3 linked regions of the Homo sapiens genome follow. The protein of the gene in region 3 purifies or fractionates together with the protein of the main gene of each other region. This does not show direct contact. Each region holds a gene or a part of one and is shown on either strand. Other genes may lie near its edges.

Region 1 (3,653 bases), on a different chromosome or scaffold from region 3:
CAGCCACGTACTCTGAAAAGGACATGGCTAGGGGTCACACCAAGGCTCTTTATATAATCCTCTTTGACAAGCCTGTGCAGCAGCTATAATTATTTCTCATTTCACAAACATGGAACCCCTGAGACATAAAGTCTTTAAATTGTTTACATGTAAGACTGTCAGAAGTCCTTTCTTGGGAAAGGTTTTGTTTTCTTTTTTAAGACACAGAGTCTCGGCCGGGCCGGACACAAACTACAGGCTGGGCCTGTAATCCCAGCACTTTGGCAGTCTGAGGCAGGAGGATCACTTGAGTCCAGGTGTTCGAGAACATCCTGGCCAACATAGTGAAACCTCATCTCTAAAAAACATCAAAAATTAGCCAGGCGTGGTGGTGTGCACCTCTAGTCCCAGCTACTTGGGAAACTGAGGCAGCAAAATTGCTTGCACCTGGGAGGTCAAGGCTGTAGTGAGCTGTGCTTGCATCACTGCACTCAGCTTGGGCAACAGAGCAAGACGCTGACTCAAAAAAAAAAAAAAAAAAAAGACAGTCTCACTCTGTTGCCCTGGCTGGAGCACAGTGGTAGGATCATGGCTCACTGCAGACTCCAACTCCTGAGCTCAACCAATCCTCCCACCTCGGCCTCACAAGTAGCTGTGACTACAGGCAAGTACCACCACGCCTGGCTGCTATTTTGCTGTTGTTGACATTGTGTTTTTCCACATTTTAGTGTTAAGTGACAAGAACAACAGAGGGTTTTTTTTTTTTTAAAGACTTTCCTTGGCAAAATTAAAGAACAACACTGTATCAGTCTTCCATCTCTTTTTATTCCTTTAAACTACTGAAAGAAGTCTGGTAACCACTGCTACACACCATGCCTCCTTCCCATGGCAACGCTGAGCCCCAAAATCCAGGTCTAAAGGTACTCTCCATGTTGTTTTAGACTATCCCCCTATGTGGGATTACACTTATTCCTCTCCACACAGATGACAACTTCCTGGTCTCATATTGCATAGGACAGCCAGGTGCAGTGGCGCACACCTGTAGTCTCAGCTATTCAGGAGGCTGAAGGGAGAAGACTGCTTGAGCCAGGAGTTTAAGGATGCAGTGAGCTATGATGGCACTGGTGAACAACCACTACATTCCACCCTGGGCAACATAGCAAGACCCTATCTCCAAAAAAACAGCCCCCGAAAAAAAAACAACACCTAAAACTTAAATAAATACTGTAATACCAGCATTTTAGGAGGCCAAGGTGGGAGGACTGCCTAAGGCCAGGAGCTTGAGACCAGTCTGGGCAACACAGCAAGATCCTATCTTTATTTTTATAGATAGATAGATAGATAGATAGATAGATAGATAGAATCACACACATCAAGACCAGTGGAAGCCTCAGTGCATCAGAGCTCATATATATACATATATATATATATATATATATATGTATACACACACCCATATATACATATATATATATGTGTGCATGTATGTGTACATCTGTGTGTGTGGGTGTATAATGAGATAAATAAATAAATAATAAATAAATAAAAATGAAATTTTGTTTTGTTTTTTGAGATGGAATCTCGTGTCGCCCAGGCTGGAGCGCAGAGGCGTGATCTCGGGTCACTGCAACCTCTGCCTCCTGGGTTCAAGCGATTCTTCGACCTCAGCTTCCTGAGTAGCTGGGATTGCAGGTATGAGCCACCACACCCAGCTAATTTTTGTATTTTTAGTAGAGATGGGGTTTCACCATGCTGTAATGAGCTGGTCTGGAACTCCTGGCCTCAAGTGATCTACCTGCCTCAGCCTCCCAAAGTGCTGGGATTACAGGCATGAGCACCGCGCAGAGCTGAAAATAAAAATTGTTTAATTGTCTATGATTGAAGCAATTTCATCCAGCCAGTGTGTTATTTCGAATTTCTCTGGCTGTCTTTGTCTCCTTTGGCAAAAAAAAAAAAAAAAATTGATCTCTTTCAATAAACCCATTTATTAAATTTCATCAATATGCTATCTCCTCTTCTAGGTACTATGGAAGATATCAAGGTCCCATACTCAAGCCTACGCTAATCACCTGCTAGGACTACAAAGTTGATTGTAGAGGGAGAGACATACCCAAAGTGTGTGCCATCTCGGTCGATGAAGTACCGGCCCTCGGAGTCCGTGGGGATGTAGTGCCGCCCACTGAACATGGCTGCCAACATGGTGTCTTCGTAGCACCGCAGTGTGGACAGGCGTGTAGTGAAGTGAGCCCCTCCGATGTTAAGGGGAACAACCTCAGGAAACTGGAAAGAAATCACCAGGGCTCTCAGGCAGGCAACGGGGAATGAGAGCTGGGGCTGCTCCATCTTCAATCCCTGGGGTCTGATTGGTGCCACACCATTCATTCAGTCACTCAAGCCCACGGGTCCATCTGAACACTTTCTTCTCTCTCCTCCCTCTGCCCCACCCTCATCATCTGCCAAGTCCTACCCATTCTAACCCTCATAGCTCTTTTTTTTTTGAGATGGAGTTTCACTCATCTCCCAGGCTGGAGTGCAGTGGCGTGATGTTGGCTCACTGCAAGCTCCGCCTCCCGGGTTCACGCCATTCTCCTGCCTCAGCCTCCCGGAGTAGCTGGGACTACAGGCGCCCTCCACCACACCCGGCTAATTTTTTGTATATATATATATATTTTTTTAGTAGAGATGGGGTTTCACTGCGTTAGCCAGGATGGTCTCGATCTCCTGACCTCATGATCCACCTGCCTCGGCCTCCCAAAGTGCTGGGATTACAGGCATGAGCCACTGTGCCTGGCCCCCTGATAGCTTTTAAATCAGGTCTCTCCACCTCAACTCCATTATCGCTGCTCTAGAGCTCAAGCCTTCAGTGTCCTTTCACTTCCTGAATTTACTATCTTAGTGCTCTTGCTCACATTGTCTTCTTTGCCCAAAATGCTCTTACCAGTCTCCTTCTTCTGTCTATATGGCAAGTTAAATGGACCCATACAGTGTTATAGGTTGTTCACTGCATAAAAGCACCTGGATGAGAGTCATCTGCTATGTGCCCTTTTTCTTTTTTTTTTTTTTTTTGAGACGGAGTCCCAGCCTGTGTCACCCAGGCTGGAGTTCAGTGGCGCGATCTCGGCTCACTGCAACCTCCGCCTCTCGGGTTCACACCATTCTCCTGCCTCAGCCTCCCGAGTAGCTGGGACTACAGGTGCCTGCCACCACGACTGGCTAATTTTTTGTATTTTTAGTAGAGATAGGGTTTCACCGTGTTAGCCAGGATTGTCTCGATCTCCTGACCTCATGATCCGCCCGCCTTGGCCTCCCCAAGTGCTGGGATTACCGGCGTGAGCCACCACGCCCGGCCTGCTATGTGCCCTTTTTCTAATTCACACCAACACACCATACAGTTTAGTGGCATCTACTCATTCTAGAAATTTCTATTCAAGTTCCCCTCATCTGTGAGCATTTCTGTCTACTGTCCCTCACCTGCCCCTAGGACAGAGTTAATGACACATTCTTCGACTGTGCCTTCACCGTGTGTCATATTCTCCTCTATAATAGCACCTAGCACGATACATCGCCAATTATTTCCCTCTGTCAATTCACTCCACTAGACCCCAAGCTTCCCAAAGACAGGGAAAGCATCTTGGTCACCAATCATGGGCTGCCCACAGCAGAGCTCAGTAGTT
Region 2 (3,653 bases), on a different chromosome or scaffold from region 3:
TCCTCTCCTCAAAAATCACGCTGTACAAGATCCCCTAGGAAAGCCTAAAACTGAAAACCATGGAACCTAAAAAGGGAACAGATAAAGCCAAATGCTAGAAAAATTCCCTTTTAAGCAGCTGTTTTAGACCAGGTTGGGAAGGGAATTAGTTAAAAGCTAAGCTCCTTTTATGGAAGGGACAAGCCAGAACTGAAGTTCCAGAAAGGTAATTTAGGATCAATATGGTTCTGATTGGGATTTTTATCTACACTGCCTCTAAATACTTGCTTCTAAGACCCAAAAAAGAGGCTGGGTGCAGTGGCTCATGCCTGTAATCCCAGCACTTTGGGAGGCCAAGGTGGGCAGATTCCTTGAGCGCAGGAGTTTGAAACCAGCCTTGGCAACATGGCGAAACCTCATCTCTACAAAACATAAGTCGAGTGTGATGGTGTGCACCTGTAGTCCCAGCTACCCGGGAGGCTGACGTGGGAAAACGGGAGGACTGCTTGAGCCCAGGGATACTGAGGCTACAATGAGCTGTGATTGTGCCACTGCACTCCAGCCTGAGAGACAGAGTAAGACGCTGCCTCAAAAACAAACAAACAAAAAACCACCAAAAAAGAAAGCCACTTCAGCAATATCTGCCTTTGGGCAATAAGGCCCACACTGAGTAGCAAGGAAGAGGCAAGAACAAAACCTTCCTCATCCTACATCTAGCACAGAAGTAACAGACACAATCCCAGCAGAAGGGTAGAAAAATCAGTATTTTACAAAGATGAGTAGTTTTGTGCCGGAAAAAACACAGGTTTCTTGTAAGACAATGCAAATTAGTTCTACTTGTTCTCAAACAAAAGAAAAAACATAGCATAACAATCTCAGCCTTTTTGTCCTCCCAACAAAAACGTCAGTAAGTTTCCAAATGTGTAGGTCCTAACAACCTAGGCGAGCAGCAGCAGAAGCAGGGAGGAGGCAGCCAGGAAGGGTAGGAGTATAATCTTGGCTCTGGAGATCATAACCTGTGGGCTGAACAGAGGGAGAGATGAGGCAAGAAATGTTGAGAAGTCGCTGCTGCCCTGGAACCTCCACAAATACAAGTGGAACCTGAGGTCAGAGAAAAAACATTCAAGGAGAATACTGGAAAAGATTAGATGTCCGTGGGCCAAATCCACTCAAGTGTGGTGATTCCTACACACACAGAGACAGACACAGAAATAAAGGTATTCTTCCCATGTAGTGAGATACTATAAAGTGATCTATAGAAACTATAAAGAGATACGATAAAGGGACACATAAAACAGATATCACATCTGTTGGAGACTGGAAAAGCAATGTATGGGTTCCAATAACAACATATCATAAGCAATCAAGAGACTAAGAAATTTTTAAAACTCCCTCTCTCTATATATACACACATACCTACCATTAGATTCCTAAAGCAAAATATATGCAATTTGACAAAAGGCCTTGAATTAAACATCATTTCAAACCAGTTACCCTTGACTGATTCAAACCCAGAGTTGAATATATATAACCCTGGAGAATTCCTTTTTGCATATCCAACTACAAGCTAAGCCAATAAATAGACCTACTACCCCTATTTCCTTCAGACACTAAATAAACTGTCATCTGAGCTCAAGTGTTCCTTAAGAGGATGGGAGACAAGAAAGAAGAGCCAGTCTTAGAAAAATGGACCAATGAGTACAAAGCTAAATTCTGTCCAGTGCCCTCTGCTGGAAATGGGATCCAGGGACTTTTTTATTCCCACATGTATAAACAAGAATAAAAGACATTAATAGTCAAAGGGAAGCTAAGAGACAAAGCAAAATTAGCGTTAAATATTCATTTTCCACTACTTATATTTTGGAAATATAAGTGAAATTTTGTCTCATGAGCACCAATCTTGATAAAATGTAAGTGGGTTTTCTCATGATGGCCTTCCTTCAGGAAGATTAGTTCTTATTTAAAATTAAGGACCCCAAGTGTCTTATAACCTAGTTTCCTTGCTTTGAAGTCAGTATATTTTGGAAAAAAACCAAACAATTTCCAAGGCGCTCAAGTGGAAAGGAATGTAAAGTCCAACATTTCGGGCACAGGGCTACAGCAGAGAAGGCAAACTGAGTTGATGAAGGCAGGCAGGGGCCGTGACTAAGTGTTGTAACATTACCTACTCAAGATCTGGAGTCTAGAATGAAAGCTTAAGAAAGCTTTCTGGAACCACAAGTAATCCACGGCATGATTATGTCTTCTTTTAATGAGCTGCTATTTTCTTGACTGCAGAACATACAGAAGGTGGGGAGTGAGGTAGCAACCCCCTGGCCTACCTCCACCTCATCCTAAGCTATGCGTTCCTTATGGAGAATGTTTCAGGCAGAGCCATACTCTACTGGCACAAGGCATTGGGGAATTTTCTACCATTTTTACCAGAGATAAACGTCTGTGACACCAACTCCTGCCTTCAAAATGAATTTTACTTGAGGGTTATTCAATTAAATAGGGTGAAAAAATATCCAGCATAGCTAAAGTTATTCCACACCCATCACCAATGAAACAGGACTGAATTGGTTCAGGATAAAAATTCTGTGCAAGTCAGAGCTCTTTAAAAAATAACTGTCTTCTAACAAAAGGAGAAAAAAGTCCCAAATTTACCTTAATTTAGAGGCACTTCTGGAAATGAAAATGATTTGTACCTAACCCCTTATGTTCCCCTTCCTTTCTTCAGTGTTTTAGGCACTTCCTAGTTTGACACAATAGTGGACTGAATTATGTCTCTCAGGTGATTCATCACAAGGTCATAGCTTTCTTCCAAGTAGTAAGCCCCTACCCCTCAGTCATTTTGCAAACCTGATACATGAGCTCCTCAAAAGCTTATCTGCCTTCCAATAAAGATGCAAAATGATATACCACCCTGACTCATAGAAAAAGACCCCAGACTAGAACTCTGGCCACAAACTACAAGGATCAGGTTTTCCAAGATTTTCTGAATGGATGTGGTTCCCCTAGTAGACCTGGCTTCCCATCTCCCATGTTAAGGAAGATCTTCTTTATTAATCCCCTGGCTCACTAGAGATCAGGAACCCCAGTGGGTAGAATGTTCAGCTCCCAAGGAAGATATGCTGCAGAGGCACATGGCAAACTGCTTAAAAGAAAAAAACAAAACAAAACAAAAAAAGCTTGTAGTCAACAGACATGTGAAGAGTCCCTCCCATCCAATCCAGAAGCTTAAGTAATAATTTGAGAATCTGTACCCAGTAGGAAGTTAGCCCTAAGTCTCACCCAGGTCACCAGAGGGCAGTTATACTTTCCAATTCTGCCTAGAACCTCCACGCTTCAGTGCAGGACTTTTAAAAATTAAAATTATATGGAGAGTCTGATAAAGATTTGACTTTGAAAAATTTGGGGGAAGAAAGGAACCAGACACCCAATACCACCCTCAGATAGGGCATGGCTTCTGAACATGCACCAAATGCCACAGCACTGCATGAGTTGAAAAATGAAGAGGACATCATTTTTTCATTAATGCTTTTAGGAATTTCTTTTAGAAGGGAAGGAAAAAGAAATTCAAAAAAGGTGGCTCTTTGGGGAAAAAAAAAAAATGAAAGTTGTGAAATGTAATACCAGAAAGGTTTTGCTTACCAGAAACCGTAGCTTGATTCCCCCTGCCTTGAGTTTACAAC
Region 3 (3,653 bases):
ACACATCGTTCCAACGAAGTGGGCAGCATTAATTAATTAAGCAAACAAAAAATCACTGTATGCTATTAGGCATGCAATTACTTTTGCACCCACCTAATACATGCCAAGGCATGGGCAAAACACCTGTGATGATAGGATGGCCAGCCAGGCTCAGGAATCTCATGGTTCTGGGAGTCTAGTGAGACATAGCAACCAATACACAAAGTAATGGTAACACAGTGGGCTATGGAAGCTCAAAAGACCTGGAATAGAGGGCATTTGGGGGCCAAGCAAGGCTTCCCAGAGGCAATGCCCTTTAAGAGGAAAGATGAGTAAGAGCAGGTTACAGAACTGAGAGGAGGAAGAGGGCGCCAGGTGCAGGGGGAGCATCAGGGTGAAAGTTGGGCTTGGGGGGGTGGTGTTTTAAGGAAATGAAGACACTATTGCTGGAGAGTAGAATTCAAGAGTGGGGGTAAGGTGAGAAAGCAAGAAACTGGTAACATCGGAGAGGGTGGCAGAGGACAAAGTTCTCTTTAAGGAGTGTGAACTTCACCTTAAGAATAATATGGAACCACTGATAGGTTTTAAGTAGGGAAATAATATAATCAAGTTTACATTTTAGAAAGATCATTTCAATGGCAGTGTGGGAACGGATGGGAAAGTGGGCAGAACTGAGTTCAGGGAGACCAGGTGGATATCCAGAGGGAAGGGCAGGGAGCCTGAACTAGGGTAACAGCAGGAAGGATGGAAGTAAGTGCCTGGCTTTGAGAGGGGTGTAAGAGGTAGGATCAATCAATGAATGCTATTTGATGATTGTTTGGATGTGGGGGTGTGAGAGAGGGACTCCTCATGTTCTCGCTCAGGCAATAGGAGGTGGCAGAGGATGGGTACAGTCAGGGACAGGTTGATTTGAGGTCACTATGGGACTCTCTTGGAAATGTGGGGTGAACTACAGCATAAATCCATCTGGACTTCAGGAAAGAAGACCAGGCTGGGGACAGATGTTTGGAAGTCGTCAACAGGTAGAGAATAACTGGGTCCTGTCCTAGGTAGGATGACACTTGCCCTGTGCTCCCCAGGAATGGTGACATGTACAGAGGGTCCCTGTTGACCCACACATGGTTGAGAAAAAATGCACTGGAAAATCTCACCCTGTGGTTTGTGTGTCCATGCTCAGGTCTCAGGAGTGGGAGGAAACCTGTGATCCGCGGAAAAGCCAGCTACATAAGAAACGGGAAGATGGCGAGTTTTGGTATTTACCCTTCTTATACAATGGTGTTTTAAATCTTTTATTGCCCAAGTCTTCAATCCCTACCCTTTTCCCTGAACATTTACGAAGGTGGAAAATAGCTTTGCAGAGACCTGTTTAGAGGGAGCCTATTTTCTCTACCAAGACACAAAAACTTTGGATGAAAAATTATTGTAGGCTCCCTCTTGGTGGGAAAGTTATTTCAGTTATGAAATGCTGAACTTTCCAGGACATTTTAATAGTAAAAGAGAACATTGGCACCAAAGGCTTGAAATCTGTGGTTTCCTGGAAGCTAGGATGCATGGTTGTCATGCCCATATCCTCTGTACCATCTTGCTGGGACCCTCGAGCTCCCCAGTTTCCTCTAGCATGACGTCAAAAACAGCAGCAGGATGCAGACTCTATAGCTCTGGGTGAGACATGGACTTCATCACCCAGAAGTCACACAGGACTAGATGTTTTGAAAACACGTTCTCGGCCATATGCTCACATCTTAGAGCATGACGTGTACATTCCTCAGAGGGTTGTCTGGTTTACGGAGTGATGCATTTCAATGGAAATTAGCATGTGTGGAAAGGAGCATGGATCTAAATAATTAAGAATCAGAGGGACAAATATAAATTAGAAGGAAATCTTTCCCAGTATCTCTGGTTTAATCACAGTAGGAGGTGGGATTTTAGGTGTGGAATCCATTTTAGGCTGATAAAGACCTCAACAATAAATTTGGCAAAACACCCTAGGGGAAAAGCAATTTTCCTAGCAGCTTAGAGGACCCAGAGCAGAGAGAGACTGGCCGTCGTCCCACTGATCATGAAAGGGCTCACCATCGGATCAATGGGTTAAGGAGATGGCAGTAAATGATAAAGCTGCTGCCAGGTGACCGGCAGACCCCAGAACTTGACTGTGTCCTTGCCTTGCCCTCCCAGCCACTGGAGCAGAAGGACTGAAAAGATAGAAGGGTGCTTGATGGTGAATGAGCCAGGATCAGACACTGGCCTCTGGGCAGGACAGTGGCTATGCTGTGAAGTCATAGGAACCCCCACCCTGGGGACACAACCCCTGGTCACTGAGTGATGTATATCTGTTTTTAACAGGATGTCGTGTCAAGATTTCCAACAGAAATTCATCGCCATGTTTATATGTAGCGAAATTCCAATTACCCTGGACCATGGAAACACACTCCACGAAGGATGGTCCCAAATAATGTTTAGGAAGCAAGTGATTCTAGGAAACACTGCAGGTAATCATGACGCTGGTGGTCACACTGCCCAACTGGAAGCTGGCTGCCCCAGCCCAGCCCTTGCATGGCTTCAGCTCTCTCTGGTCCTTGATTCTGGACCATGAGCCTGAAGCTGAAAGGAGGGGAGTTTGTCAGCATGAAGAGACAGCGACTGCTCCTCTAAGTAAAATGATTGCTGTAGGGGCCAAGTTGGAGAATCTCTGATGTGATTCTCCCCTAGCCCTCCATGCTGTGCCAATATCCTTCCACTAACACCCTCCCGCTTCCTGGGAGGAGAGTGGGCTCACCACCCTCCAGTAAATGTCCAGGACAAGGGAGAGCGCTGCAGAAAGAACACAGGAAAAGTGTCAGGGCCTAGGTTGGACCCTTGTCTTTGCCACATACTGGCCTTGTGATGCTGGAAACATAATTGGTCACCCTGTCCTCAGCCTCCCCAAGACTCAGCAGTGGAAATAGTCATACTTGTCTGTCCTTGAGCCTAGAGAGCACTACCTAGACACAAGGGAGACTATCCCTGCCCTGTCTTGGCAGGTATGTCCCTGCTGAAGTCCCACAGGTAGGCGCATCTGAGCCTGTCTTTGAGCTCCCCTGAGATGAATCTTGTTGATCATGGCCTTGGGAAAGTCACATTCCCTCCCTGTCCCTCTCATTCCCTGTTTGTGGCATTGTTGAGTGAAATAGCTCCCTGTGAAGACGAACAAGAGTGTGCTTATATATCTTTGATAAAAGAGGCTGCGTAAACAATGCATTTGTGTGTGTGAGTGTGTTTGTTGTGTGTTTGCACCCAGGGATGCATATGCATCCCTTCCTCTGGGCACCTGCCTGTCGGGATGGTTGGTTTGAATGAGCCCATAACCCAGGGTGTCCCTCTTTTTTACCTCCAGGCTCTAGTGATCTACAGAACTTCTGCCCAGAGAGCCTTGTCACCAGGAGGTCTTGGGCAGAACCTCAAGAGCTGTTGAGTCACTCTTGGGCAGCAAATTTACTGATTCCTCTTCCTGAGCTGCACCTCTCTGATTATAGGGCCAAGGCCCTCTCCCCTGGATACAATGCTTGTCAATGAACTAACAAAACCTTTACATCAGGGCCATTTTTAGTAATACGTTACAATGGAAAAAGAAAAGAGAGCCAGTGATCGAGCACCTGCTATGTGCTGCAGATGCATTTTAATGCACCATCTTCTCC

Evidence for each region.
Region 1: the proteins of CAPN13 (region 3) and KCTD7 purify together in Homo sapiens (affinity purification with western blotting, with the first as the bait; one study listed by BioGRID). This does not show direct contact.
Region 2: the proteins of CAPN13 (region 3) and PPP1R10 purify together in Homo sapiens (affinity purification with mass spectrometry; 2 studies listed by BioGRID and IntAct, with this or other methods). This does not show direct contact.

Annotation. Positions count from the first base shown.
Region 1 is NC_000007.14:66,631,881-66,635,533, reverse strand, and holds part of KCTD7 (BTB/POZ domain-containing protein KCTD7), read right to left. Parts: intron 2,260-3,653; coding exon 2,090-2,259; intron 1-2,089. UniProt on the Homo sapiens protein: May be involved in the control of excitability of cortical neurons.
Region 2 is NC_000006.12:30,610,741-30,614,393, forward strand, and holds part of PPP1R10 (serine/threonine-protein phosphatase 1 regulatory subunit 10), read right to left. Parts: intron 1-3,653.
Region 3 is NC_000002.12:30,751,868-30,755,520, reverse strand, and holds part of CAPN13 (calpain-13), read left to right. Parts: intron 1-1,156; coding exon 1,157-1,231; intron 1,232-2,322; coding exon 2,323-2,468; intron 2,469-3,653.